Regions from separate parts of the Homo sapiens genome. Here region 1 is linked to region 2. The links come from fine-mapping of genetic effects on gene expression. A gene starts in region 2. The other region holds a variant in brackets. All regions are shown on one strand. Distances are from middle to middle. Region 1 holds the start of PRSS21 (serine protease 21). Region 2 holds the start of PRSS33 (serine protease 33).

Region 1 (14,145 bases), 33 kb after region 2:
CTGAGCCAATGTTTCCCTGGGATGCGAGCTACTACATCAGGTCAACCCCTGGATTCACAGCTGCTCAGCTCAGCCAGGGCAATGATCTCTTGGGGGAAGTGGGCTGCTTTAGCTTAGGCCTGGGGAATGAGACTATTCTGGGTAGCCCTGGCACCATTTCCTGGAATGCAGCACGCTTCTCCAACTTCAGCTCTGAGCAGCCAAGGTGCTGTTTTCCCGGGAGGCAGGTTGTGGCTTCAGCTCTGGCCTGAGCGGAGAAGGGGGAAGGTTAGGTGGAGCACCTCCACCACTGCTTGGCCCCAGGAGCAAGGGTGTGACCGCTGCTCACGGCTCAGTTTAGGGGTGTGAAGCCACCAGGCTGAGGTTGTTCAGTGGTGGATTAGTCTCAGGGATAAAGGGCAACTGTGGCTACTCAATCCCAGGGCAAGATATGCTCTGGCTGTAGTTCCAATTCACCGCTGGCGCAGTGCGGTAGCCACGTGACCACAGGAAATGGGCTCACTGTGGGCTCCTCTGCAGGGAGCTCAGCTGTGCGGCCTCAGTTAGCCCCCTTGCCTGGGCTTAGTGCCTGTGAGGACAGGGGACGCTAGTGGTGAGGGCTATAGGTGTCCAAGGTGCTGGTGGGGCTCCTGGGATCCCCTGCTTACCTCCTTGCCTCATTCCCAGCTGATCCTGGTTGAGGACTGGGGTGCAGGCCCAGTGTTTCCTTCTGTTCTTCATGCGGCCATCCTGAGTTTCTCTGCTCACCAGGTTTCTGTTACTCCTCTAAAGCACTCTGGTGCTCTTCCTCAGTTATTTTCATTAAAAGTTAATTGTTGGCCAGGCGCGGTGGCTCACACCTGTAATCCCAGCACTTTGGGAGGCCAAGGCGGGCAGATCATGAGGTCAAGAGATCGAGACCATCCTGGCCAACCTGGTGAAACTGTCTCTACTAAAAATACAAAAAAAAAAAAAAAAAAAAAAAAGGGGGCATGGTGGTAGGTGCCTGTAATCCCAGCTACTTGGGAGGCTGAGGCAGGAGAATTGCTTGAACCCGGGAGGCGGAGGTTGCAGTGAGTTGAGATCACGCCATTGCACTCCAGCCTGGGCAAAAAGAGCAAAACTCTGTCTCAAAAACAAAAACAAAAACAAAAACAAATATTGTTTATTCATTGTTCTGGCTGTCTTAGTGAGGGGAAGGAGGACAAGAGAACTAGGGGGGCCATGGATGGGTGGCCCGCACCTGTAATTCCAGCACTTTGAGAGACCAGGGCAGAAGGATCGCTGGAGGCCAGGAGTTCAAGACCAGCCTGGATAACATTTTGCTCTACAAAAAATTTAAAATAAAAATGGGCCGGGCGCGGTGGCTCATGCCTGTAATCCCAGCACTTTGGGAGGCCGAGGTGGGCGGATCACAAGGTCAGGAGTTCGAGACCAGCCTGGCCAACATAGTGAAACCCCGTCTCTACTAAAAATACAAAAATTAGCTGGACGTGGTGGCACACGCCTATAGTCCTAGCTACTCGGGAGGCTGAGGCAGGAGAATCACTTGAACTCGGGAGGCAGAGGCTGCAGCGAGCCGAGATCGCCCCACTGCACATTAGCCCGGGCGACAGTGAGACTTAGTCTCAAAAAAAAAAAAAATAAAATAAAATAAAAGTAAAAATAAAAACGTAGCTGGGTGTGGTGGCCCGCACCTGTGGTCCCAGCTACTTGGGAGGATGAGGTAAGAGGATTACATTGAGCCTGGGATGCTGAGGCTGCAGAGAGCCAAGATCTCACCACTGCCCTCCAGCCTGGCCAATAGAGGGAGACCCTGTCTCAAAAAATAAAATAAAATAAAATAAAGAAAAAAAGAAAAAGGAAGGAAATTGTGACACATACAGCGATATGGATGAGCCATGAAGACACTGTGCTCAGTGAAATAAGCCAGTCACAAAAAACGAACACCGTGTGATTTCACACATATGAAGTACTTAGAGCAGCCAAAAGCGTAGGGACAGAAAGCAAAACAGAAGTTGCCAGAGACTGACAGGGCGGGAGCAGAGCCTCACTTTAGTTTTGGCACCTGGCTCTGGTTGTGACGCCTGCACCGTCTCCCTGGAGGGGCTGGTCAGAGCTGGGCTCCCACTGACTGATGTGCCAAGATGAGGCCCCCACTGTACCTCTGCTCCCACCCTTCTGCACCACCCACCCAGCTCCCATCCCTCTGCACCACCCACCCAGCTCCCACCCCTCTGCACCACCCGTCCAGCATTCCTCTGACTTTCAGGGATAGCAGGGGCCAGGCACAGGGAGTGGGCAGCGGAGTCCCTCTCAGGAGGAGCCTCCTTCAGGGAGGTGGAGGTGGAAGAGGCCAAGCCCTTGGCCAGCACAGCTCTCAGAGGCAGGAGCTTGGAGGTGCCACAAAGCGGGCTGTGTTCTCGCGCTAGCCCAGCCTAAGGGCACCTTTCCATGTTTTGTTTTGTTTTGTTTTTTGTTTTTTTTTTTTTTTTAAACACGGACTCTCGCCCTCTCACCCAGGCTGGAGTGCAATGGTGCGATCTCGGCTCACCGCAACCTCTGCCTCCCAGGTTCAAATGATTCTCCTGCCTCAGCCTCCAGAGTAGCTGAGATTACAGGTGCCCACCACCATGCCCAGCTATTTTTTGTACTTTTAGTAGAGACAGGATTTCACCATGTTGGCCAGGCTGGTCTCGAACTCCTGAACTTGTGATCCATCCGCCTCGGCTCCCCAAAGTGCTGGGATTACAGGCTTGAGCCATGGCACCCGACCTGTCTTTCCATGTTTTGCTGGCAGTTCAGGGGCCTTCTTTCTAACTCCAGGCTGACAGGGTTTGGCGCCCAGAAGGAGAGTCACTTGGGCCAGGACTCCAGAAGCACCAGCTGAGGTTGAGGGGACTTGGTGGAAGGGATAGTTAGCAGCCTGGCCAGAGGGGCGCCAGGACTCACCCAAATGCACACTGGAGGGGATGTTCAGATGGCACGAGAACGGGGATCACACATGGTCGTTCACACACGTGCACTTGAAGATGCATGCACACACATACACCCAGACACACACACCCGCCCAGCCTCTCCTGCACGCAGGGGGCATGCACACACGAGGACGCTCCTCACCTGCATGCCTGACCTGGGGAAGAAGCCCACCTGGTGGGAGGCACCCTCCTCCCACCCTCCATCTGCCATGGCCCAAGTGCTGGCCCCGAGCCCGTGCCCAGGGAGACTCAACACAGGCCCTTTGTCCCTTGGGATCAGGGCTCCCAAGAGAGGGATTTACTGAGCATTTATTTCCTGCCCCGGGCACGCCCCAGTCCTCATTCTGCCAGGAGAAGGGAACAATGAGGCCTTCTCCTGCCCGCAGAGGTGGCTCCGGGCCGGCTGGCCCTTATGTGTCAGGAGTCGGGTTAGGACCACAAGTCCCTGTCCTCCCTGCCCTCCAGGTGTGGGGCTTGGGAAGACCCCTCTGTGACTCTGCAGCCTGAGGCACAGCAGACAAGAGAGTCTCCATCTGCAGCCCATGCAGCAGCCAGGGCCTCCCTGCAGCCCCCGGGCCAGGCTTGGCCTCTGCGGGAAGCCCCCAGCCTCACTGGAGGCAAGAACCTGAGTCCCTGGCTCAGATCTCCGGGTAGGACTGGCCTGACTGAGACCCTGGGCAAAACCAGGAGCTGACACCTCCTAGGGGCCTCAGCGGATCCCTGGGACTCAGGAACCAGAGGGAACGTCCTGCTGGCTGGGAGAGGGGCAGGATCAGAAGCCCAGGGACCTTTGCCCCAACCCAGCAGGCCAAGGCCAGGCTGTGCATGTGACTTGTCCTTGAGCAGCTGCTGCTGGGGAAGGAGGCCCTGAGGGAAGGCACCGCAGCCTTGTGCTCCTGAAACCCGAAGCTCCCACACACCCGCTGCGCCCTCATTGAGTTCCCGTTGGTACCATGCTCTGTGCTAAGCATTTTATCTGTACTTTCCCCAAAGAAACTTAATACTTTTATTGGAAAACCAGAACGCCTAACCACACATTTTGCCTAATCTTTCATGTAATTAACCTTCCACTAGTGCAAGTGTTGAAAGTAGAATACGCTATTCCCAAGTTTCAAGTTGAGGGAGGCGGGATTCCCAGGTTCTGGTTGTACATTCCCATTTTCACTGATCTGTTCAGTGGTCAATGGATTCTTGGGTTGCTTTCATGTCAGCTACTGTGAATAATCCTGCTATGAACATGGGTATACAAATATCTCTTGAAGGCTGGGTGGGGTGGCTCACACCTTCACCCTGGCACTTTGGGAGGCCGCAGAGGGCAGATCACCTGAGGTCAGAAGTTCAAGACCAGCCTGGCCAACATGGCGAAACCCCATCTCTACTAAAAATACAAAAATTAGCTAAGCATGGTGGCAGGTGCCTCTAATCCCAGCTACTCTGGAGGCTGAGACAGGAGAATCACTTGAACCCAGGAGGCAGATGTTGCAGTGAGCCAAGATCGCACCACTGCACTCCAGCCTGAGCGATGGAGCAAGACTCCATCTCAAAAACAAACAAAACTAAATCCCCCCAAAAAACCAAAAACAAATATCTCTTGAAGACCTTCCTTTCAGTTCTTTTGGGTGTATGCTCAGAAGTGGAATTGCAGCTGGGCGCGGTGGCTCATGCCTGTAATCCCAGCACTTTGAGAGGCCGAGGTGGGCGGATTACCTGAGGTCAGGAGTTGGAGACCAGCCTGGTTAACATGGCGAAACCCCGTCTGTACTAAAAATACAAAAATGAGCCAGGTGTGCTGGCGCGCGCCTGTAACCCCAGCTACTTGGGAGGCTGAGGCAGGAGAATCGCTTGAACCCAGGAGGTGGAGGTTGCAGTGAGCTGGGATCACGCCAATGCACTCCAGCCTGGGCGACAAGAGCGAAACTCCATCTCAAAAAAAAAAAAAATTGTTCCAGAGAAGTGAAGAGAGCCCAGCGGGAGCCCGCAGTGGGGACAGCCTGGGCAGAGACTTGGGGAGATCCCCATTCTGGGTGGAACGGGCCGAGGACCACTGTTTTCCCAAGAAGGTCCCATGAAGGAGCAGCCATGCCTCTAGGCCCCACCCGGCCTTCAGGGGGTCCCCAGGCTTTAAGGGGACTCCTGGCTCAGGGCCAGGCCCTTGGTGCTGGAGGAGGTTGTAGGTGGAGGACGGGGTCACCAAGAGGGCAGCCGGGACCCCTGGGCTGCAGACAAGAAAGGGACTGTGGGGTCCACCGGGTCTGGGCCACATCAAGAAGTGTGGTTGAAGACCCGCCCCTAGGGGCTGAAAGCCAGGGCGCTGCCAGGCATGAGAGGCCCCAAACAGCCCTTGGGCCCAGGAGGGTGAAGCTGGGAGTAGAGGGCAGAGCTCCCACCCCGCCCCGCCCCCAGGGGGCGCCCCGGGCCCGGCGCGAGAGGAGGCAGAGGGGGCGTCAGGCCGCGGGAGAGGAGGCCATGGGCGCGCGCGGGGCGCTGCTGCTGGCGCTGCTGCTGGCTCGGGCTGGACTCAGGAAGCCGGGTGAGCTCGGGGCGCTGCTGGCGGGATGGGGAGGCGGGGGAGCGGTGGGGAGGACGGGAGGTGGAGGCCGCGGGGAGTCACTTCTTGTCTCCCGCAGAGTCGCAGGAGGCGGCGCCGTTATCAGGTAGGGCGCCCAGGACGCGCGATTCCTGCCAGGGCCGTTGGGCCGAGGTGGACGGGGGGCGGTGAGGGGGTAGAGGGGGGCCTTTACTGCTCTCTCGCCCCCGCCCCCGGGATCGAGAACTCTGTTGGCGTGGAAAGTAACTAACGGACGCTGGAGGGGGATGGGCGGGCCCTGCAGAGCACGTGGGAGGATCTCCAGTGTCACCTACTTCCTGCTGCACACACGCGAGGGGACCCTGGGTGGGCAAAAACGTGCTTTCCCGGACGGGGTTGAAGGGGAGAAAGGGAGAGGTCGGGCTTGGGGGGCTGCCTCCCGCGGCTCAGCAGTTCCTCTGACCATCCGAGGACCATGCGGCCGACGGGTCATCACGTCGCGCATCGTGGGTGGAGAGGACGCCGAACTCGGGCGTTGGCCGTGGCAGGGGAGCCTGCGCCTGTGGGATTCCCACGTATGCGGAGTGAGCCTGCTCAGCCACCGCTGGGCACTCACGGCGGCGCACTGCTTTGAAACGTGAGTGGGGGTGCGAACGGAGGGGTGCGGGGACGGGCAGGAACAGGGCTGGAGGGAGTGCCACCGAACTTTACCTCTGGTCTGATGCCAGACTTGGGCGTGAAAGTTGTGCGTGGATGCGGCCTGGTGTTCTCCTGAGCCCCAGGCTGTGCTGCAGCCGGTTACACCCACTCCAGTTCCCTTTGGGTCTCCTGGAGGGAACCCTGTTCAGGTTATTCCAGAATGTTCTTCCAGAACATTTCCACACACTTTTGGGTATTCTCTCCCTTTTTCTTTCAACCCAAAGTTCACCACTGACCATCCCACCCTCATCCCCCCTCCTGGTGGACGGTGCGGTACAGTGTGGGGCACTGAGCCAAGGCCAGCACCCCCGGGCCGCTGTGTGGACTCCATCCTGCCAATCCCACATTGGCGTGGTGCATCTCCCCATTCCTCCTTGGGCTGCATGGGGGTGCCCCTGGAGGCCTTGGCTCAATGCAAGGCTCCTTGGGACAGCTCTGGGAGGTGACAAGACCCCACCCTTCTGCTGCAGGAGCAGGTCCTAGGACTTTGGTTGTGGTCTGTCTGGGCTCCTTCATTTCTGCAGGGGACCCTGGGTGTTAGCAAGTAGCAGCAACACCACAGTTTCCCCTCCTGCACTGGACCCCAGTTGTGCTCAGGTAGCCAGCCCTCCATCCAGGGCCCCTGACTGCTCTCTTCTCTTCTGCCAGCTATAGTGACCTTAGTGATCCCTCCGGGTGGATGGTCCAGTTTGGCCAGCTGACTTCCATGCCATCCTTCTGGAGCCTGCAGGCCTACTACACCCGTTACTTCGTATCGAATATCTATCTGAGCCCTCGCTACCTGGGGAATTCACCCTATGACATTGCCTTGGTGAAGCTGTCTGCACCTGTCACCTACACTAAACACATCCAGCCCATCTGTCTCCAGGCCTCCACATTTGAGTTTGAGAACCGGACAGACTGCTGGGTGACTGGCTGGGGGTACATCAAAGAGGATGAGGGTGAGGCTGGGGACAGGCGGGTCAGGGAGGAACTGTCTTTGTTCACCTGTTCCCCTGCATAGGCACAATAGCCCCCTGCTTGGTCTGGGGGTGCAGGCTATGCCCCTCTTGCTTGCAGTCTCTCCTCACCTGCCAGGGCAGGGACCAAACACCCAGTTCTCTCCCTTCCAGGGGCTGTGGGGGCCAGAAGGAGAGTGTGAGAGGGAGGCCAGTTTGGCGCAGGCCTGTGGGTGGTGCGGTGGTGGAGGGGTTCTGGAGGGCTTGGCGACATAAACCTCATACTTGGATTTATTCCTGCATCTTTCCACCTCCCCCAGTGCTCACCAATGCCCCAGGCATCAGGCTCCTGGGCTGCCTCTCCATGCCTCCCACACCCACCCTAGCTCTGGCCGATTCTCCTGCAGCACTGAGCCCATTCCTCTCCCCAGAAACTTCCAAGCCATGCTCAACCGCAGCTCCCACGGAAACCCCTCTGGGGGTTCCTCTGGTGGGCCTGCCCTGGCACCTGCGTGTCCCCCAACACACATGCCCTGAAAGAAGTGGGCCCAGCATCCGGAGGAGCCCCGGCAGCCCCAGACTGGGCGTGTTCCCTGTATCAGGAATCCCTTCCCTCTGCTCCCCTGTCTGGCCCGTCCCTGCATCATCCCACAACAGTAGTAACAATAACAAACGTGGTTCCTTGAGCACACGCTGTGTGCCTGGCACTGTTCTAGACATGGGGGCCCAGCAGTGAGCCAGGCGCGGCCTCTCCTCCTGCTGGAGCTCACCTAGGAATGAAGTTGGTAACGTTCTTATACCCATCTTACAGATGAGAAAACTGAGAGGGTTATGGAAATTGCCAAGAACTAGTAAATGGAGAAGTCAGGGCCCCTTGCCTTAGAGAGGGTAAGGGATGTCCCCAAGTCACACCCCGGCAGTTGGGAGTGGGGAACTCAGCACTGGAGCCGCCTCCCTCTGGAGGAGGGATCCTTTGCCTTCCCTGAGAAGGACCCTTGCTGCAAACACGAGTGGATATGAGCCAGGGGCACGGCCAGGCTGCCTCTGCCACCCTCTCTCCCCAGCCCAGGGTAGACAGGTCACACCAACCCCAGGCTGTGCCTCAATTCACAGTGCCGGGGAGGCAGGGGACAGGCACTTCTGGAGCCCCCTGCCTGGTGTGCACCTTTGCTGTGCCCTGCGCGGGCTGGGAGGCCTTGGGCAAAGGTGTTCATCTTACAGTGCCTCAGTTTCCTCCCCTGTGAAATAGGGGAATGATGGTGCCACATCAGAGGCTAGTTCCCAGGTTGTTAGTCCCGAGGGCTTAGGAGAGGCCCCGCTGACGGGAAGCGCTGCCTGCAGGTTGGGTCTCATTGTCTTTTGTCATCCTCTGCAGGACAAGGTGCTGGCTGGCACTCTGAGGCAGGAATTGGACAGGTGTGGGCTCCTGTCAGGCTCTGAAACTTCCCCAGTGCCTTGCTGGGGGTCAGCGGGGCAATATCCCCCTGACTCTCCTTATCTGGGAGTAGGTCCTGATGACTGCCGCCTCCCAGGGGTGCTGGGGGTCCCTAAGAGTGCTGCAACAAGCTTGTGTCCAGGCCTGGAAAGCGCCCAGCTGCTACTGAGGCCAGGGCTGCAGCCAGGCTGCCCCTCCCCCAGGTCTGGCTTTGGATGCTCATCTGAACACCGTCTCAGCTGCCTTCGCCCCTCCCTCGGCTCCTTTTGGCTGAGGAATCTCTCCATGGCTGCAGGCAGGGCCATTGTTGCCATTCTACAGATAGGGAAAGTGCGGCTGGGGGAGCTCTGACAGCCTGTCCCTCCCCGGGGCCTTCTGTGATGCTGCTGAGGGCCTCTGTTGTGCTGGGGTCTGGGTTGGAGCTGGGGGTAATGGAGATGAACCTGCCAGGCACAGTGGGTGCCCCAGGGCCCCCACCCCCGCAGCCTATGCCATCCCTCCATAGAGGGGCCTCAGGTTGCTGTCTCTCTCCTTCCCACTATCGTCC[G/A]CACAGCACTGCCATCTCCCCACACCCTCCAGGAAGTTCAGGTCGCCATCATAAACAACTCTATGTGCAACCACCTCTTCCTCAAGTACAGTTTCCGCAAGGACATCTTTGGAGACATGGTTTGTGCTGGCAATGCCCAAGGCGGGAAGGATGCCTGCTTCGTGAGTGTCCTTGCCACCACTCCCAGCCCAGGAAAGCATCCTGTGTCCCTGTGCCTTATTTGACCCTCATGCCAACCCCGGGAGGTGGAGACTGTTGCCCCACTCTGCAGATGCAGAAACGGAGGCTTGGCTGCTGCCAGGGGGAGGAGGAGGATGTGCACCCAGTCTACCCAGCCCCATAGCCCTTCCCACTCTCAGCCCCTCCCCTGCCCCACTCACTCTGCCCCAGGCTGACCTCAGCCCCGCTGCTCCCCAGGGTGACTCAGGTGGACCCTTGGCCTGTAACAAGAATGGACTGTGGTATCAGATTGGAGTCGTGAGCTGGGGAGTGGGCTGTGGTCGGCCCAATCGGCCCGGTGTCTACACCAATATCAGCCACCACTTTGAGTGGATCCAGAAGCTGATGGCCCAGAGTGGCATGTCCCAGCCAGACCCCTCCTGGCCGCTACTCTTTTTCCCTCTTCTCTGGGCTCTCCCACTCCTGGGGCCGGTCTGAGCCTACCTGAGCCCATGCAGCCTGGGGCCACTGCCAAGTCAGGCCCTGGTTCTCTTCTGTCTTGTTTGGTAATAAACACATTCCAGTTGATGCCTTGCAGGGCATTCTTCAAAAGCAGTGGCTTCATGGACAGCTCATTCTCTCTTGTGCAGACAGCCTGTCTGTGCCCCTGGCTCACACCCACATCTGTTCTGCACCATAGAACCATCTGGTTATTTCGATCAGAAAGAGAATTGTGTGTTGCCCAGGCTGGTCTTGAACGCCTAGGGTGGTCTCGATCCTCCCGCCTCACCCTCCTGAGTAGCTGAAATTATAGACGCACATCATGCTCAGCAATGGAACAGGAGTAGTTCCAGGGTGCCAGGAGCTGGGAAGCCTGGATTGGGGGTGTGTGCATTGGAGGAAACAATCCTGACATCCCTCACCCCACAAGGATCCGGCACAGAAACGCCAGACATCCTGATCTTACTATGGTTCCCCCAAGGCTGACCTAGGACCAGGACATAGGTGCAGGTAGTTTATCTGGGAGGGGATTGCAGGAAATGGGGAAACCGAGGCAGGGAAGGAAGGAACACCAATGAGCTTACACAAACATAGAGGGTACCATTCTAGGCAACTGGGGTGCAATCCTGTGGGGGCCTCAGCGTTGGCCCACTGAGGACAAGGACACCACGGTGGGCGTTTCTCTCTTGACCACTCCCCCCACCATGTTGAGAGTAGTTCTGGGGCACGGGATGCCTCAGAGCTGGGGCAGCCCCGAGGTGAGGCTCTGAGCACCCAGAAAGTAGGCAATAATGGTTCCCCTTGTGGGACTCCAGCTGGCTCCAAGTTCGAAAATCATGGTCCTCCCTTAGCGATGTTTTTATTTTTTTATTTTTATTTTTGCAGTTTATTGCATAAAGGAATTACACTAGTTCAAGTTAAAAGCAGACCTCAAATGGTTAAATTAGACAAACTGTGAGGTTTTAAAACTTGTAACAAGGGAAAGAAGGGAAATTCTACTCATTACAGGGAAATCCTCACTTAAGTTTCAGTGAGCCACAAGTAGTTAAAACCCTTGAACCATCAGCAGATCGTCCTTAGCCAGTCCCACCTCTACAAGGAACTGGCATATGTTCTTGCGCTGGTCACCCTGTAGCTGAATGACTTCTCCATATTCTGGATGCTCAATTACCGTCCCATTGCAGGGAAATTTCCTCTTAAATGCCTTCACTAGTTGCTTTTTATTGTAATCCTTAGTGATCGCTTAGACAGTGCTAAGGGTTTTCCTGTCATTTCTCTGTTAAATCCTTGCATGGATGTATTCCTCAGTGCCTGCAGGGAGCAGGTCATCACTCTTACTTAAATCAGCAAAGGGGTGGAAGAGTGGAGATTCTGGACAGTGGACATACGAGATGACTCCTTTTCCTCAGTGGAAACGGGCAAAACTCGGGCCAAGGCGCCAACAGCCACAGATTTCCAGCCAGAAAAACAACACCCCAGAGATCCTGTAACATTACGAAGGCTTTGGAATGTCATATTTAAATTGTTTATAGATCAGTTTTATCATCTACCTGTAGACTATATTGGACCCTAAATTCTAAGTTCCTCCAATCCAGTTTTCTCCTACGGAATTATTAAAACTGGAAGCTGCTCTTTCATAAATGCCCTGCGAGCTAAAACAAAACAACTTAACATAAATATCAAGGGACAAGTATTGTGCCTGATGTGTGGACCGCACAGAGTTCACCAACCATCCAAGGCCATAACCAGAGACATTTTAACTGCAAAATTGCCGGCTTCATACTGCAGCTTTTCCCAAGACCATCAAAACGAGATTCCGTATCATGGTGGTCCACTTACCTCTCTTAATGCGCACCTTTCTCCCTTGACAGGATAATGTGTAATTAAAATTTTACAGCCAGTAACTGCTTTGGGTAACTTAACAGAACTGGACCTAAAAACATGCTTCACTCCACCTAGTGGGTAACTTTGGCGATATCGCTAACACAACTTGTTCAAATTGTACTAGTGGTCCCTTTTATAGAGTTGGCCCTGTTTTCTGCTTTATTTCAACCCAGTCATGAAATGCTACTTAATGGCTACAATAGCTTTCAGCCAGTTTGCCTGTCATCCTTTTTTTTTTTTTTTTTTTTTTTTGAGACAGAGTCTCACTCTGTCACCCAGGCTGGAGTGCAATGGCACGATCTCAGCTCACTGCAACCTCCGCCTCCCTGGTTCAAGCAATTATCCTGCCTCAGCCTCCTGAGTAGCTGGGAGTGCCATCATGCCCAGCTACTTTTGTAATTTTTAGTAGAGACGGGGTTTCACTATGTTGGCCAGGCTGGTCTCAAACTCCTGACCTCTCGATCCACCCGCCTCGGCCTCCCAAAGTGCTAGGATTACAGGCGTGAACCACCATACCTGGCCTAGTTTTTTGTTTGCTTTTCGTTTGTTTGTTTGTTTGCTTTTGTTTTTTTAAGAGATAGGGTCTCGCTTTGGCACCTAGACTGGAGCCAGTGCAGTGACGTGATCCTAGCTCACTGCAACTTTGAAGTCCTGGGCTCCTTCCACCTCAGTCTTCTGAGTAGCTGGGTCTACAGGCCCACACTACCACCACCAGCTAAGTTGTTTAAAGTTATTTTTTGTAGAGACAAGTTCTCACTTTGTTGTCCAGGCTGGTCTCACGTGGGCAGTTAGCCCCAGACCTCCTGCCAGATGCCCCAGCCCAGCCAGGTGGTCCGGAATCCATAAATATTTTTTAAACCTGTGAATATACACTTCGAGATTTGTGATTTCGTTGTATGCAAATTGTGCTTCAAACTGGGAAAAGCCCAACCCCCCAAAAGTCTAGTTAACGATACGCATGTGGAAGTCCCTGAGGGTAAGTGAACTGAGGTCTGCACCTGACGTCTGAGGAAAGAAGATGAACCAATGAGTGGACGGAGGGTCCGGGACATGGACAAATGCAGTGACACCCACACAGGAGAATGCTGAGGACTGGAGAGGCAGGGATTGCGTGGGTGTCACTGTCACCTTTTACTCTCCAGTATGTCTGAATTTGGGTGGTAAATGTAGGGGAAATGTCTGTTGACTTTGTCCTTGGAGGACAGCTCCCCAGGGCCCATCCTCAGCTTCTGCCATCTTGGTCCATCTGGATCGTCCATCCTCGAGTCTGGAAAATTCCAGGCCCTCCACATGGCTTGCTGTGGGGGCTGCAGTCAGGAACTGGCCTCCCGGACCAGCGACGCCCCCCACAGGGCTACTCCCTCTGCAGCCTCCCAGGGAGGACTCAACCACTCTTGGGAAGGAGATGAGCAACTGACTCAAACCAGTCTGAGGCTGTTCCAGTGCCTGACACCATCGAGGGCCTCGTCCGGGCCGGTCCTCATGTATTAGTCCATTCTCACGCTGCTAATAAAGACATACCTGAGATTGGGTATTTTAGAAAGGAAAGAGGTTTAATTGACTCACAGTTCAGCGTGGCTGGGGAGGCCTCAGGAAACTTACTATTAGGGCAGAAAGGGAAGCAAACACATCCTTCTTCACATGGTGGCAGCAAGGAGAAGTGCCAAGCAAAAGGGGGGAAATCTCTGTATAAAACCATCAGATCTCGTGAGAATTCACTCTCTATCACGAGAACAGCAGCATAGGGGTAACTCACTGCCCACGACTCAATTACCTCCCACCAGGTCCCTCCCACAACATGTGGGAATGATGGGAACTACAATTTAAGATGAGATTTGGGCGGGGACACAGCCAAACCGTATCACCTTAATAAGACGGACTCGTTTCCCCCCAGCAGACGGCTGGCGGCCGCACACATTGTCTCGCTCCTCCCTCCCAACAGCCTCAGGTGCTGAGGTGTGCTAGAGGCTTATCTACCGATAGAGAAACCGAGGCTGGGAGTGGCTGCGGGAGGTGCAGTCAGGAACAGGGTCGGAGTGTGGCGCCGGGCCAGGCCGCTCAGGTCCCTTATCATGGAATCTACCGGGGCAGGTGCGAAGGCTGAGCCCAACATCCTTCCTCCATTCACAGGACAGGGCCCGAGCAAGTCAGCTGGAGCACAGCCACGGAGGTGGACAGGGTCGGCCCCCGTGGGGCACTTCCTGGCCCCCAGGAGAGGAGGTCAGGAGAGTGGGGCGAGCCCCAGGTTCTAAGCAGGTGCCTGCCTCAGGAGAGAGTCAGGGGGATGCTAACCAGGTGCTGTGGCTGTCTTTGTCTCCCCAAAGTACATATGTGGAAGCTCTAAGCATATGTGTCAAGAGGTGGGACCTTTGAAAGTAATTAGGTTTAGATGAGGTCATGAGCACAGGACCTCCAGTGATGGGCTAAGGCCCTTATAAGAAAAGGAGACCAGGGCTCTCCTCTTCGCCCCTCCCCAGATAAGAGGACACAGTGAGAAG
Region 2 (14,005 bases):
GCGGTGGCTCACGCCTGTAATCCCAGCACTTTGGGAGGCTGAAGGGGGTGGATCACTTGAGCCCAGAAGTTCAAGACCAGCTTGGCCAACAAGGTGAAACCCTGTCTGTACTAAAAATACAAACAAAATTAGGTGGGCACGGTGGCGCACGCCTGTGGTCCCAGCTGCTCGAGAGGCTGAGCCAGGAGGATTGCTTGAACCCGGAGGCGCAGGTTGCAGTGCGCCGAGATCGCGCCACTGCACATCGCCTGGCGACAGAGTGAGACTCTGTCTCCAATTAATTAATCCCAGTGTCTTTACCTACATAGAACTGGCAACTTTAAATCCTGTGCTTCTGTGGAGGGAGAGCGAAGGAAGAGTGTGGACAGTGGGGGCCAGGAAGTTCTCAGGTAGCCCAGCAGGCCACGCAGAAGTCAAGGGGTGTGTAGGTACAGGAGGGGCCGTCTCCACAGGGAGACGCCTGGATCCATACTCCATCCAGGCTTCATCTGCAGAGACCAGGGGTGGACACCTCGTTTGTGGGGGCCGTCACAGCTGATGCCCCAGCTCAGGATGTCCACCAGAAACCAGGAGTCACCATCCTCTTAAGGGTGGTGCCTGTCCTCCAGAGAGCATATCACTGGGTTCAAACCCCAGCTCCTACCGGCAAAGCCCGGGGCCTCCACCTGGGTGTTCCCATCCATGAAGCGGGGATACACAGTGTGGAGCCCTTGGGAGGTTGGGGAGTGTGCCTGCCCTCACCGCGCATCAGCTCATAAATACAACAACAGTTGCCTTCACGTGCTGATGCTCAGTGAGCAGTGGCGCAGTTCCCCAGCTGGCGCAGTCAGTGGTGTCTGTCTGCTGTCAGAGGTCACCTGGACCCAGCACGAGTCCTTGCCCCTAGAGGGAGTCTCCACACACCCCACGACGCTGTCCTCCCTGTGGGATAACTACACGAGGAGATGGCAGGCCATCGTATCATTCAGTGCAGCGATACCTCCTGTGGTGGGAATGGGGTCAGGAGGGATTTTCCCGGAGCAGGGCCACTCGCTGGCCTAGCCTGGGGTCTCCACTTTTGGAAGTGTGGTCTTGTGGGGTCCAGGTTCTCCTTAAGGGCCTTTACAAGGAATGGGAGCGTCCAGTGGTGGAGAGGAGCTGGCTGGCTGCGCCTGCTACCCACACGGGAATGTCCTCCTGGGCTCCTCTCTTCAACTGGCCTTCACCTCTCCGCCTCACAGATTTCACTCGGAGAATCCGCCTTGCAGCCTGTCTTCTGCTCCCTCCCATCTACCTTTTGTTTTTTTTTGAGACGGAGTCTTACCCTGTCTCCCAGGCTGGAGTGCAATGGCGTGATCTTGGCTCACTGCAGCCTCTGCCTCCTGGATTCTCCTGCCTCAGCCTCCCGAGTATCTGGGATTACAGGCATGCACCACCATGCCTGGCTGTTTTTTTGTATATTTAGTAGAGACGGGGTTTCACCACGTTGGCTAGGCTAGTCTCGAACCCCTGAGCTTGTGATCCACCTGCCTCAGCCTCCCAAAATGCTGAGATTACAGGCGTGAGCCACCACGCCCAGCGTCTGTCTACCTTTTATTCCCATCACTCCCCACCCCAGACAGGGTGTTGTGTTATGATGGGGAAGGCCCTTGTGTCTTTTGGGTGTGTTAGACCTGGGAAACAATCTGTCTTCTCCTTTCACGTGCCCCAAAGCAGGACTCCAATCTTCCCCGGGCCTTTCTGATTGGGAGTCTTAAGACCCTCCCCAGAGAGGGCCCCACCCTGTTCCCTGGGAAAGGAATGCTGACAAAACCCTACAGGACGGTTTGGAGACAGGGTTAGTTCAACTCGTGTGTGTCCCCAGAGGGTGACACCACAGGGATGAATGGGAGCTCCAGGCCCCTCCCCAGCACCTCAACCTGCACATTGCTTCATCTGGATCCTTTGTAACATCCTTTATAATAAACCAGTGAAGGTGTTTCTCTGAGTTCTGTGCATCGCTCTAACAAATTAATTGACCCCAAAGAGGAGAGTCATGGGAACGCTAACCTGAAGCCAGTCAGTCAGACGTTCCGGAGCCCAAACTTGCGATTGGGGAATGGGGAGGCAGTCCTGTGAGCCCCCACCTGTGGGACCTGAGGCTGGCGCTGGGCAGATAGTGTTGGAATTGAGTTGAGGACACCCTGCTGGTGTCCAGTGCTTAGTGTGTGGGGGAAAAAAACCCACAACTGTTGGTCACAGGAGTCTTCTGTGTTGATGATTGTGGTTTTGGTGTGAGAGTGTTAGGGACCTCTGCTTACCAGGCCTCTGGTTTAATAAAACAACCAGAGTGACTCCATCTTAAAATGTGTAGCTAAGCACTCACAAGGCATCTATAAGGTTCATGCTGTCTGAAAATAGCCACATTCTTTTTGTTTTTGAGACAGGGTCTCCTTCTGTCACCCAGACCAGAGTGCAGTAGCCTGATACTGGCTCAAATAATCCTCCCACCTCAGCCCCTGGAGTAACTGGGACTACAGGCATGCACCACCACATCCGGCTAATTTTTGTAGTTTTTGTAGAGATGGGGTTCCACCATGTTGCCCAGGCTGGTCTCAAACAGCTCAAGCAATCCTCCTGCCTCAGCCTCCCAAAGTGCTGGGACTACAGGCATGAGCCCCTACACCCAGTCTAAAATAGCCACATCTTAAGCTGGCCACCAATTAGGATTACAAAATGTTTATGGCCATACAGGACTTCTCCCAGAAGGCCCATAGAATGTCCACACGTTCTGAGAATGCAGCCCACTTTACTAAGATAGTGTCAGTAAGCAGGCTAAGACAGAGGATGCACGGTCACCGATGGCACCAATAGCCCCGACCTTTAGTGAGCACATATCTGCACGTTCCAGGTTTATTTACTGCTCCTTGTAGTTTCTCTCTCTCTCTCTTTTTTTTTTTTTTTTTTTTTGAGACAAAGTCTCACTCTGTTGCCCAGGCTGGAGTACAATGGTGTGATCTGGGCTCACTGCAACCTCCGCCTCCCGAGTTCAAGTGATTCTCCTGTCTCAGCTTCCTGAGTAGCTGGGATTACAGGTGCGTGCCACCACACCTGGCTAATTTTTGTATTTTTAGTAGAAACGGGATTTTACCATGTTGGCCAGCCTGGTCTCGAACTCCTGACCTCAGGTGATCCACCCTCCTCGGCTTCCCAAAGTGCTGGGATTACAGGCGTGAGCCACTGAGCCCGGCCTGTAGTTTCTTATAAGCAGAGACACTAACCAAAGACGTTGAGTTCTTCCTCCTGCTCTCTGAGCACGCCTGCTCTGTGATGGAGTCCTTTCTAATCAACTTGCTTCTCTCACTGTGCTCTGTGGCTCACCTTGAATTCCTTCCTGTGTGAGATCCAAGAACCCTCTCTTGGAACCCTGTCTTGGGGTCTGGATTGGGACCCTCTTTTCTGGCAACAAGAGTAGAGGAAAAACACAATTTGAGAGAGATTTTCCCTACACACAGATCTTGCTCTGTAGCCCAGGCTGGAGTGCAGTGGCGTGATCTTTATGGCAGCCTTGAAATCCTGAGTTCAGGCGATCCCACCTCACCCTCCCGAGTAACTGAGACTGCAGGCACGGGCCACCATGCCTGGCTAATGTAATTTTTTGTAGAGATGGGGGTTTCACTATGTTGCCCAGGCTGGTCTCGATTTTCTGGCTTCAAGCAATCATCCTGCCTTGGTCTACCAAAACACTGGGATTACAAGCATCAACCACTGTGCCTGGTCTACTTCTTTTGTTTTTGTGTTAATACGTAGTAGTTATTCACGACCATGCGTTAGTAATGTGCCTTATTTGTAAGAGTGTTTTATAGCTACTTTTGTCCCCATAAGGGATGTGACATAACTGTTAGGAGTGTGGGATTTGAGTTCAAATCTGTCTCCACTACTTACCAGCTGTGGGCCTGTGGCCAAGTTACCTAACCTCTCTGGGCCTGTTTCCCCTTCTGTGAGATGAGAAGAGTATCTCCTTCAAGGGCTCTGAGGTCTGCTGAGAGCATGTACATGCCTGGCACAGTGCACATACTCAGCGGGCATAACGACCACCTTGGCCGACATCTGGACCCCCAACAGCCACGGGAGTGCAGGTGTTATCAGTGCAGATTACGGAGAGGGAAGTAGGCCCCATCCTGTGGAGGTCAGTTGCACGGGGCTGACAAGAGCTGCCACTCGTCTGGCCCCACAGGCCATCATGCCGGGAACGGGCCAAGAGGACGGGTGCGGGGAGGCTGCCCTTTTGGGGGTGGGAGGGAGTGGAGAGAGTGGAGGACCTCTGCTTTTCCCAGAATCAGACCACCTGGGCTGGAGTCCCAGTCTACCAACCTTGCCGGCGGTGTGACTTTTGGGACTTGTTTTTCTCATCTGACAAATGGGGACAAGCCACCTCACGGAGCCTCCTGTGGGAATTCAATGAGCTGATGGAATAAAGCCCTCCCTCTGCACAGTGTCTGGTGAGGGCTTGACGAGGGGCCGTGATTTCTTCTCATTAATGATCCTCCCTTCCCTGCCCGGCTCCACTCCCTTCTGCCTCCTTAGCTGGGCCTGCAGCCTTTTGCAGGCTCGCCTGCCATAGCCATGCCCTGTCGTCCTGGGCACCTGGTGCCTGATGACCACACCAGTGGTGGCCAAGCTGTACTGCAGCATGGTCTGTTCTCCACCTGGGGGACAGAGAAGCCTTGAGCACCCTCCCTGCCCCACCTGGCCTGGCCCAGCCGTGACCATCTAGTACAGCCCACTTCCCTGGCTCCCCAGGAGGAAAGGGGAGGGAGGCGATGCTCAGGCCTGTGCCTGGACCTAAAGGGGCTGCGCCTTTGAAGTTTACCTTCCCTTATCTTCCCTTCCCTTCTGCTGATAGCCCCTGTCAGCTCCAGAGTAGGTTTTGAATTTTCCAGGTTTTGTTTCTTTTCCTTCTGCAGCTGTGGAAACTGACCTCTATCTATTGGAACGGGTGGTCCTGGCTCTGGAGACAAGGACATGGCAGAGAGGGGACAGGATGCCAGGCACCAGGCTGGAAGGGGACCCCAAGGGTGGGCAAGGACCTGCACGTGGGCTAGCTGTTGGCGTCTGGGTGCAGGTGTCAGTAGGGTGGCCTGGGCCCCAGGCTCACCCTGGGAGTGAATGGTGGCCAGACACAATGAGAACAGAATCTGGGCCTGCCCCGGGACTCCTGACCCCTCCTGGGCCGAGGGCCTGATACCAAGTGCCCAGCCTCTTGCAGTATGTGGGGAGGTGGCCGCGCTGGCCAGCCCACCTTTCCCACTGGGACACCTTCATCACAGTGGGGCAAAATCTATATTAGTTTTTATTGCTGTATAACAAGTCAGCACAAATGGAGCAGCTTAAAGCACACATTTATTAAGTCACAACTTTGTAGGTCAGGAGTGGCTCAGCTAGGTTCTCTGCTTAGGGTCTCTTTAGGTTGAAATGAAGGGATTGGCCGGCGGGGCTCTTATCTGGAGGCTGGGGAAGAACTTACTTCCCAGCTCCTTCAGGGTGCTGCCAGAATCCAGTGCCTTGCGGCTGTGGGTCTGAGGGTTCCGATTCCCTGCCGGCTGTCTCTCAGCTCTTAGAGGCCGCTCATGGCTGTGGTCCCCGTGTCCTCAAAGCCAGCTATGGAGGATCTCCCTGGTGTCAAATCTCTGTCATGCTGTGAATCTGACTTTCTCCAGAAAAAGATGGGCACACAGGCCAGATGGGCAGCAATTGGTTTGCCCATCACTGCGTGCCTTGCGCCCAGCCCTGGCCAGGGCCAAGAAAAGTAAATACAAGCCAGGAAGGGAGTGGGGAGTGTGACTCCCTGGGACTCATGGCAGATTCCTGGATGAGGGTTGGTGGAGTCAGAGCTGGTGATCCCCAAAGAGGAGAGGAGGCAGGAGGTGGTGGGTGGGGGGTGGGGTGGCCTTTAGCTTTTTTAGGCATCTTGGCCTCGAGGCAGAAGGGATGTGGGGTATAGGCAGGTGCCTGGATGAACCAGGAGGCTGAGGGACCCCAGCAGCTGGCTCCAGGTCAGCCTCACCGGCTAGCATTAGAAGCTGACGCGAGCCTGAATCCAGGGGCTATATGTGGCCACACTGGTGTAGACCCCTGGACGGTTGGGCAGGGCACAACCCTTGCCCCAGCTCACCACGCCCACCAGGACCCAGCTCCCAGACTGCAGGCAGGTCAGAGGTCCCCCAGAATCACCCTGCAGGAGAAAGAGGAGCCTAAGTCCCAGCCCTCCCAGGACTTCAGTTCTCAGGGTTCCAGACCCCTGGCGTGGTGCCTCTAGGTTGGAGGCCAGGATCCTGAGCCTGAGTTGGGATGTCCTGGGTCCTGGAGTTCAGGGAGGGAGGGTGCTGGGCACAGGGAGGGGACTCCGGAGGCTGGGGAGGCTGGGTGCACACCTGGCAGGCGTCCTTGTGGCCCTGGGGGTAGCCGGCACACAGACTCCCAGGCAGCACAATGCGCTCAGCCTGGGGCACGTCCGCGCCCACGTGGTAGAGGCCGTCGCAGGTGCGCGAGTCCAGCAGCGGCACCCTTACTCCTTGTAGCGGTCGCCACTCTGGGAGGGGCACTGGGGGAAGAGGAGGGACCTCTGAGAGGAAGGCGTGGAGCGGGGGCCAGTGGGAGAAGCTGAGCTCTGAGTGAGAGGAGGTTTTGTTCCCTAGAAGCCGCGCTGGGTCCTGGATTGGGGCAGTGAGGGGCTGGGATTTCCAGTCAGATGGAGGAGGACGTGGGGGCTCCCGGATGCCTCGGAGCCCCGCCCTCCTGCCTTACCTCCTGGGCGGAGGCTGCCCCAGCCGGTGACCCGGCATGGTGTGCCGGGCGGCGGGCGGGCGCCGGGCACGGGCAGGCAGACGGGTTGGACGCGAGCGCTCAGGGGCACCGGGCGACGCAGCTGCAGCAGTGCCAGGTCGCCGCGGGCCCCGTCCTCGGAGTAGTCCGGGGGCAGCAGCACCCGTCGCACGGGCACCGAGAGCGTGCGGGGCGAGGTGGAGCCCAGACGCAGCGCCCCCAGGCGCACGCGGTACTCAGCTGGCAGTGCCCTCCTGCAGGACAGGAGCGGGGGACTACTTCCAGCACCGGGTCCTCGACCCCCTCCAGCCCGCCTCGACCCCAACGCCTCTGCCAGGCCACGCCCGGTCCTCTGCGGGCCTTGCCTTCCTTGCACACCCCGCCTGGGCCCTCGGTGAGCGCTGACCTGGGGAAGCAGTGCGCCGCTGTCAGCACCCACTGGGGGGCGATGAGCGACCCCCCGCACACGTGTGCCCCACGATGCTGGATGCTCGCCTGCCACGGCCACTCTCCGTCCCGGCCATCCCGGCCCCCAACGATCCGACTGGACATGCGGGGCTGCCCGCAGGCTAGAAAAGGACCAGGGGCGGTGAGGGTTGGCTGAGGACCTGGGGCCTGGGAGGCAGGTGTTGGTGGGGAGACACGGGGCCGAGGTCCAGGAGGGGCTGACTCGGGTGGACTCCGAGGCTTCCTCACCTGCAGACTTCCTTCCCTGAGTCCCAGCAGCTCCTGGAGGAGGAAGCAGGGAAGGGACCAGATTATAGATTTGGTGTCAAATAACGGAGTTGGAGGGGAGGCCAGAGATGAGGAAGGAGGGTGAAACAATGTTGCCCTGACATTGCGCCAGGCTTTCGTGCCGTCTGTTATCTTATTTAACCCTCCCCAGAGCACTGTGAAGGTGCAGGGGGCAAGGGCGTATGAGCATGACACCGACAAGCACATCGAGGTGTGGTGAGGTCAAGGTCAGTGGCAGAGAGGATTGAGCCCTTGGAATCAAGATTAGAAAGCCCAAGAGTGCTCCAGGGAGCCCGGCCCAGGGAGCAGTGAGATGGGAGAACTGGGAGCCAAGGTGTCTGCGGCCCTCACCCCCAGTCCCTGTCCCCACTCACCCAGCACCAGAAGGAGCAGGACCTGGAGACAGGAAACCCCTCTCATTCTGTCTTCAAGGCTGGGCTGGGTAAGGGTGGCACTGCCTAGGGCTTGGACTCTGGTCTGGAGCCAGCAGGGAGAAGAGAGGAGAGTCCTGGCCCAGGGGCACCAATCCTCACACCAGCCCGTCACCCCCTCCGTGGTCCTTCTGTCTGTCCTCAGCTCCTGGTGGGTTCTGGACTTATCCTGGTGGCCCAGGCTGTATACCCTTCGTTCTGCCCAGGGCCCAGGTATGCAGCACCCACCACCCAGATATTTGGGCATCCTTGGTCTCGACAGAAGCCCTGGAGCCTAACCCCCCTCGGTCATCCTCACTCCCTCCCTCATCCCCCTCCCCCATCCTCACCCCCTCCCTCATCCTCACCCCCTCCCTCATCCTCACTCCCTCCTCCATCCTCACCCCCCTCCTCCTCACTCCCCTCCCTTATCCTCACCCCTTCCCTCATCCTCATCCCTCTCTCATCCTCACCCCCTCCCTCATCCTCACCTCCTCCTCTATCCTCACCCCGTCCTCCATCGTCACCCCTGCTCCTCCTCACTCCCCTCCCTCATCCTCACCCCCTCCCTCATCCTCACCTCTCATCCTCACCCCTCTCTCATCCTCACCCCTCCCTCATCCTCACCCCTCCTCTATCCTCACCCCCTCCTCCATCCTCAGCCCCCTCCTCCTCACTCCCCTCCCTCATCCTCACCCCCTCCCTCATCCTCACCCCTGTCTCATCCTCACCCCCTCCCTCATCCTTCACCCCCTCCCTCATCCTCACTCCTCTCTCATCACCCCTCCTCCATCCTTCACCCCCCCATCGTCACCCCCTCCCTCATCCTCACCCCCTCCTCTATCCTCACCCCCTTCCTCCTCACTCCCCTCCCTCATCTTCACCACTTCCCTCATCCTCACCCCCTCCCCCATCCTTCACCCCTCCTCGTCCTCACCCTCATCCTCACCCACTGGCTGCCCCTGCAGCCCCCACAGCCCCTGGCTTGCTCTCACCCTCACAGCCTGGCGCCTTCTGCTGACTGGGGTTGAGGGAGGGCCTGGGGGCTTAAAGTGCCAGGAGAGCGCGAGGCTCAGCCAAGGAGTAATGAACAGGGCCGGGGCGGGGCTGTGGCTTTACCGGACCAGCCTCAAACAAAGATGCTTTGAGCAGAGCTTCAGAGGTGGCAGGAAAGGGTCAATGGGTTTCTCAAAGGAAGCCTGCCTTGCGCCAAGGTACTAGAAGTGGGGGCTGGCGGAGAGCAGTGGTGCGGGTAGGTGCTGGGAGGGGTGGCAGTCAGGTGGGGAAGCTCTGCAGGATCCGGGGCAACTCCTCTCCAAACCTGACCTGGGCTCCCTGCAGAGCACACGTTGCTGGAGCTTCTGCGCTCCATTGTTCTGTCCAGAAATCCCATCTCAGACGGAAGTCCTGGCCAGACAGCTCCACCCAGAGACCCCAGCATGGCCAGCCCCCTTCCAGATCCGGGGTCTGGAGCAGCTGGAGGTGGAAAGGGACTGGTTCAAAGTTGGTGGCACTCCTTACTTGACCAGAGGCAGGGGGAGACTTGACCTTGGGGACCAGTGCAGTCTTTGGTTTGGGGTGGCCGAGACAGAGCAAGATGCTGGGGTCAGGGGACAGGAACTCCCCTTCTCTCGAGGCCCGTGGAGGACCGGGGCCCGGATGGTCCAGGGCCCTGTAGTTCCCTCTTGGGCTCATACACAGTGTTCGCTGCCTAGAAGTCTCTCAAGTCCCTCTCTGCATAGTGAACTCCTCTTATCCCTCAGCCTTCTGCTCTGCCACCTCCTCCTGCCTCCTTTGCAGCCCTGCCATAGTTGTACTTTTTTCCTTTTTTTTTTTTTTGTTTTTCTTTCTTTTTTTTTTTAAAGAGACAGGGTCTTGGCCAAGCATGGTGGCTCATGCCTGTAATCCCTGCATTTTGGGAAGCCGAGATGGGTGGCTCATTTGAGGTCAGGGGTTTGAGACGAGCCTGGCCAACATGGTGAAACCTCGTCTCTACTAAAAATACAAAAATTAGCCAGGCCTGATGGTGGGCGCCTGCAATCTCAGCTACTCGGGAGGCTGAGGCACAGGAATTGCTTGAACCCGGGAGGTGGAAGTTGCAGTGAGCCGAGATTATGCCACTGCACTCCAGCCTGGGCGACGCAGTGAGATTCTGTCTCAAAAAAAAATAAAAAGGGAGAGAGAGACAGGGTCTTGCTCTGTCACCCAGGCTGGAGTGCAGTGGTACAATCACAACTCCCTGCGTCCTTGACCTCTGGGCTCAAGTGATCCTGCCACCTCAGCTTCCCAAGTAGTTGGGACCACAGGTGCATGCCACAGCACCTAGCAATTTTTTTTTCCAGAGATGGGGTCTTGCAATGATGCCCAACTTGTTCTCGAACTCCTGGGCTCAAGAGATCCTCTTGCTGTAGTCTCCCAAAGTGCTGGGGTTATAGGCATGTGCCACCGAGGCCAGCCCATAGTTGTCCTTTGACAGGGACTTGAGGAGGTTTGATTTACATCCTCTTGTCTCCCCTCCAGCATCAGGGTCTGGGTCTGTGTCCCTGTAGGAGTCCGCTTGGGCTGCCATAAACAAAAACCACAGCCGAAGGGGCTTTCTTTTTTTTTTTCTGAGACAGAGTCTTGCTCTGTCTCCAGGCTGGAGTGCGGTGGCGTGATCTCGGCTCACTGCAACCTCCACCTCCCGGGTTCAAGCTATTCTCCTGCCTCAGCCTCCTGAGTAGCAGGGATTTACAGGTGCGCGCCATCACACCCGGCTAATTTTTTTTTTTTTTTTGTATTTTTAGTGGAGACGCGGTTTCACCTTGTTGGCCAGGATGGTCTTGATCTCTTGACCTCATGGTCCGCCCGCCTCGGCCTCCCAAAGTGCTGGGATTACAGGCGTGAACCACTGCGCCCGGCCGTGGGGGCTTAAACAACATAAATGTATTGCTCATGATTCTAGAGCCTGGGAATTCCAAGATCAAGGTGCCAGTAACATAGTTTTCATTCTAAGGCCACTTTTCTTGGCTTGTTGGGTGGCCTGCATCTTGCTGTGTGCTTCCGTGGCCTCTGTGTGCATGAGGGGAGGGAGAGAGACAGGTTGCACTCTTGTCACTTCTTATGAGTGACACAGAACGGCTGGGCTCCCACCTTCAAGCCTGGAGCCCCAGCCCTAAGTGAAAACATCTGACCCTGTTTTTCTGCCCAAATGATTGCCTTCTTGGCCCACCCCGCCCCCTAACCTGTACCGGTAAAAACCAGACCAGATGGCAGAAGAAAAGGAAGAAAAGAGCAACACAAGCAGCTGACCAGCAGGGATACAAGCTGCTGAGCCTTGGGGATACATGCGGCTGAGCTTTAGCTGTGGATAGATGCGGCTAACTTCAGATGGTGCGACTTCAGGGAAAGATCACCTTCCTTCCGCATCAATTCCCCATCCTGCTGACAGCCACTTTTATCACCCATTGAAATCCTCCGCATGCACTACCTTCCAAATAGCTCATGTGACCTGGTTCTTCCTGGACACTGAACAAGAACTCGGGTGTCAAAAAGGGCAGGTGCAGGATGCTGTCACCCTGACCCTTCACTGAACTGTTAATATTTAGCCATCCACGAACAACAGCTGAGTGAAACGAGCCACTCCAGTTCCTGCCCACGAAGGGGGTCACAGTCAAGGGAACAAATCCCGTCTCATAAGGACACGAATTCTATTGGATTAGGGTCCTACTCTTTTTTTTTTTTTTTTTTTAAGACAGGGTTTTGGTCTTGTTGCCCAGGCTGGAGTGCAGTGGCACAATCTCGGCTCACCGCAACCTCCGCCTCCCGGGTTCAAGTGATTCTTCTGCCTCAGCCTCCCGAGTAGCTGGGATTACAGGCATGCGCCACCACGCCCAGCTAATTTTGTACTTTTAGTAGAGACAAGGTTTCTCCATGTTGGTCAGGCTGGTCTTGAACTCCTGACCTCAGGCGATCCACCCGCCTTGGCCTCCCAAAGTGCCGGGATTATAGGCGTGAGCCACTGTGCCCAGCAGGGTCCTACTCTTGTGATCTCATTTAACCTTAATTACTTCCATAAGGGCAAATACAGTCACAACAGTGAGTAAGGCTTTGACATATGAATTTTGGAGGGGACACAAACATTTCAGTGCATAACATTCTCCAGTGGGCAGGACAGTGCCCAGCACAGAGCTGGCACTAAGGATTTGGGAATAAGTGGCCAAGGCTGAGCAGGGCAGCAGACTGGGGATGAGGCTGAGGGACACAGAGGAGGGGGCTGGTGGGGACACAGACCCAGCATCTGGATGCAACGTAGACAGAGGGTGGTCTTCAGGCCTGACCTCTGCTGTCCCCGTTTTAGGACCACCCTCAAGACCCGCTCTCTGCAACTGGGCTTTGGCGCCCCGGTCTCCAGCTCTGAGTCCTTGGGAGAGCTGTTGAAGCCTCACCTACCCTGCTTTCCTCATCTGCAAAATCCACCTGGTAGGTTGTGGTAAAGATTAATGGGGTTGACCATGCAGAGCTTGGCACAGTGACCAGCACTTGCCAAATACTAGGAAAGTCCTGCAAGAATAAAAGAAGTACACTCCCACCCTCCCTGAGCCTCCAGAATCTTCTGCTATACCAGGTCGGCTTGCCCTTAGAGGGCATAGTGGGGACAAGGCCAGGTGGGCAGTGTCCCTCTCTGTCATGGTTGGGTGCGGCTGGAGACCTGGACCAGTATGAGAGTGACAATGGACCCTCAGAATATGCAGCCATCCCGGGGGACTTGGCCAAGCACTGGGAGGGAAGCCAGCTAGGAGGATGGACTCCCTGTTCAGTGGGAGCTGGGTCTCTGCCTCTTCAGCGGGAGCTGTGTCTCTCCCTGTTCAGCGGGAGCTGGATCTCTGCCTGTTCAGCGGGAGCTGGGTCTCTGCCTGTTCAGCGGGAGCTGGGTCTCTGCCTGTTGCAATTTGGGGTGAAGGGGGAGGTTGGAGATCTGAGGACACCTGAGGGCTTGGGTTAAAGAAATGGATTCTCACGGCGAAATGGGCTTTTTTCAGGGGAGGGTCTGCAACTGGTTAAATATTGGACATCGGATCTTTGGGAGAGGAGGGAAAGAGCCCCCAGACCCAACCCCTGTCTCAGCTCCTATGTTGAGAAACTGAGGCACAGACCCTCAGGTAGACCCACCTCCCCTTCAGCACCACTCTTTTTTTTTCTTTTTTTTTTAGTGGTAAAAAACACACAATACAAATATACCATCTTGGCCGGGTGCGGTGGCTCACACCTGCAATCCCAGCACTTTGGGAGGCTGAGGAAGGTGGATCACCTGAGGTCAGGAGTTCAAGATCAGCCTGGCCAACATGGCGAAACCCTGTCTGTACTAAAAATACAAAAAATTAGCCAGGTGTGGTGGCGTGCGCCTGTAATCCCAGCTACTTGGGAGGCTGAGGCAAGAGAATCGCTTGAACTGGGGAGGCAGAGGTTGCAGTGAGCCGAGATCGCACCAATGCACTTCAGCCTGGGTGACAGAGTGAGACTCCGTCTCAAAAAAAAAAAAAACAAAAACACACACACACAAAATAAACAAATATACCCTCTTAATTTTTAAGTGGATGGTATAGTATTGTCAACTATATGCAGATTGCCGTAAAGAGATCTCTAGAGCATTTTCATCTTGCTTGACTGAAACTCTCTTCCTTGAACAATAGCTCTGTGTGTCCCTCTCCCCCAGCTCCTGGCAACCACCATTTTACTTGCTGCTTTGATGAGTTCGTTACTTTAAATACCTCATATAAGTGGAATTTTGCAGTATTTTTTGTTCTGTAACTAGCTTATTTCACTTAGCATAAGGTCCTCAAGATCCATCCGCGTTGTAGCATATGAAAGAATTTCATTCTTTTTTAAGGGTAAATAATATTCTGTCAGAAGTTCCTGACCAGCCTGGCCAATATGGTGAAACCCCATCTCTACTAAAAATACAAAAATTAGCTGGGTGTGGTGGCGCCCATCAGTCCCAGCTACTCAGGAGGCTGAGGCAGGAGAATCGCTTGAACCTGGAGGTGGAGTTTGCAGTGAGCCGAGATGGTAACATTGCAGTCCAGCCTGGGCGACAG

The links.
Region 1: its variant is fine-mapped to the expression of PRSS33 in whole blood (TOPMed, PIP above 0.99).

The regions. Positions count from the first base shown.
Region 1 is chr16:2,811,846-2,825,990 of GRCh38, forward strand. It overlaps PRSS21 (serine protease 21), which reads left to right and starts at 5,392. Exons shown (of 6, transcript NM_006799.4): 1 at 5,392-5,487; 2 at 5,585-5,611; 3 at 5,956-6,121; 4 at 6,832-7,124; 5 at 9,110-9,264; 6 at 9,521-9,874. The coding sequence starts at 5,424. The coding sequence ends at 9,760. It also overlaps the pseudogene EIF1P4. RefSeq lists enhancers at 1-221, 222-951, 3,094-3,594, 8,187-8,688, 8,689-9,188 and silencers at 5,260-5,539, 5,650-5,709. The variant G/A (reference allele first, on the strand shown) is at 9,104.
Region 2 is chr16:2,778,610-2,792,614 of GRCh38, forward strand. It overlaps PRSS33 (serine protease 33), which reads right to left and starts at 8,951. Exons shown (of 7, transcript NM_152891.3): 1 at 8,924-8,951; 2 at 7,893-7,995; 3 at 7,480-7,512; 4 at 7,190-7,352; 5 at 6,766-7,037; 6 at 6,393-6,562; 7 at 5,344-6,193. The coding sequence starts at 7,938. The coding sequence ends at 6,035. RefSeq lists enhancers at 1-583, 584-1,517.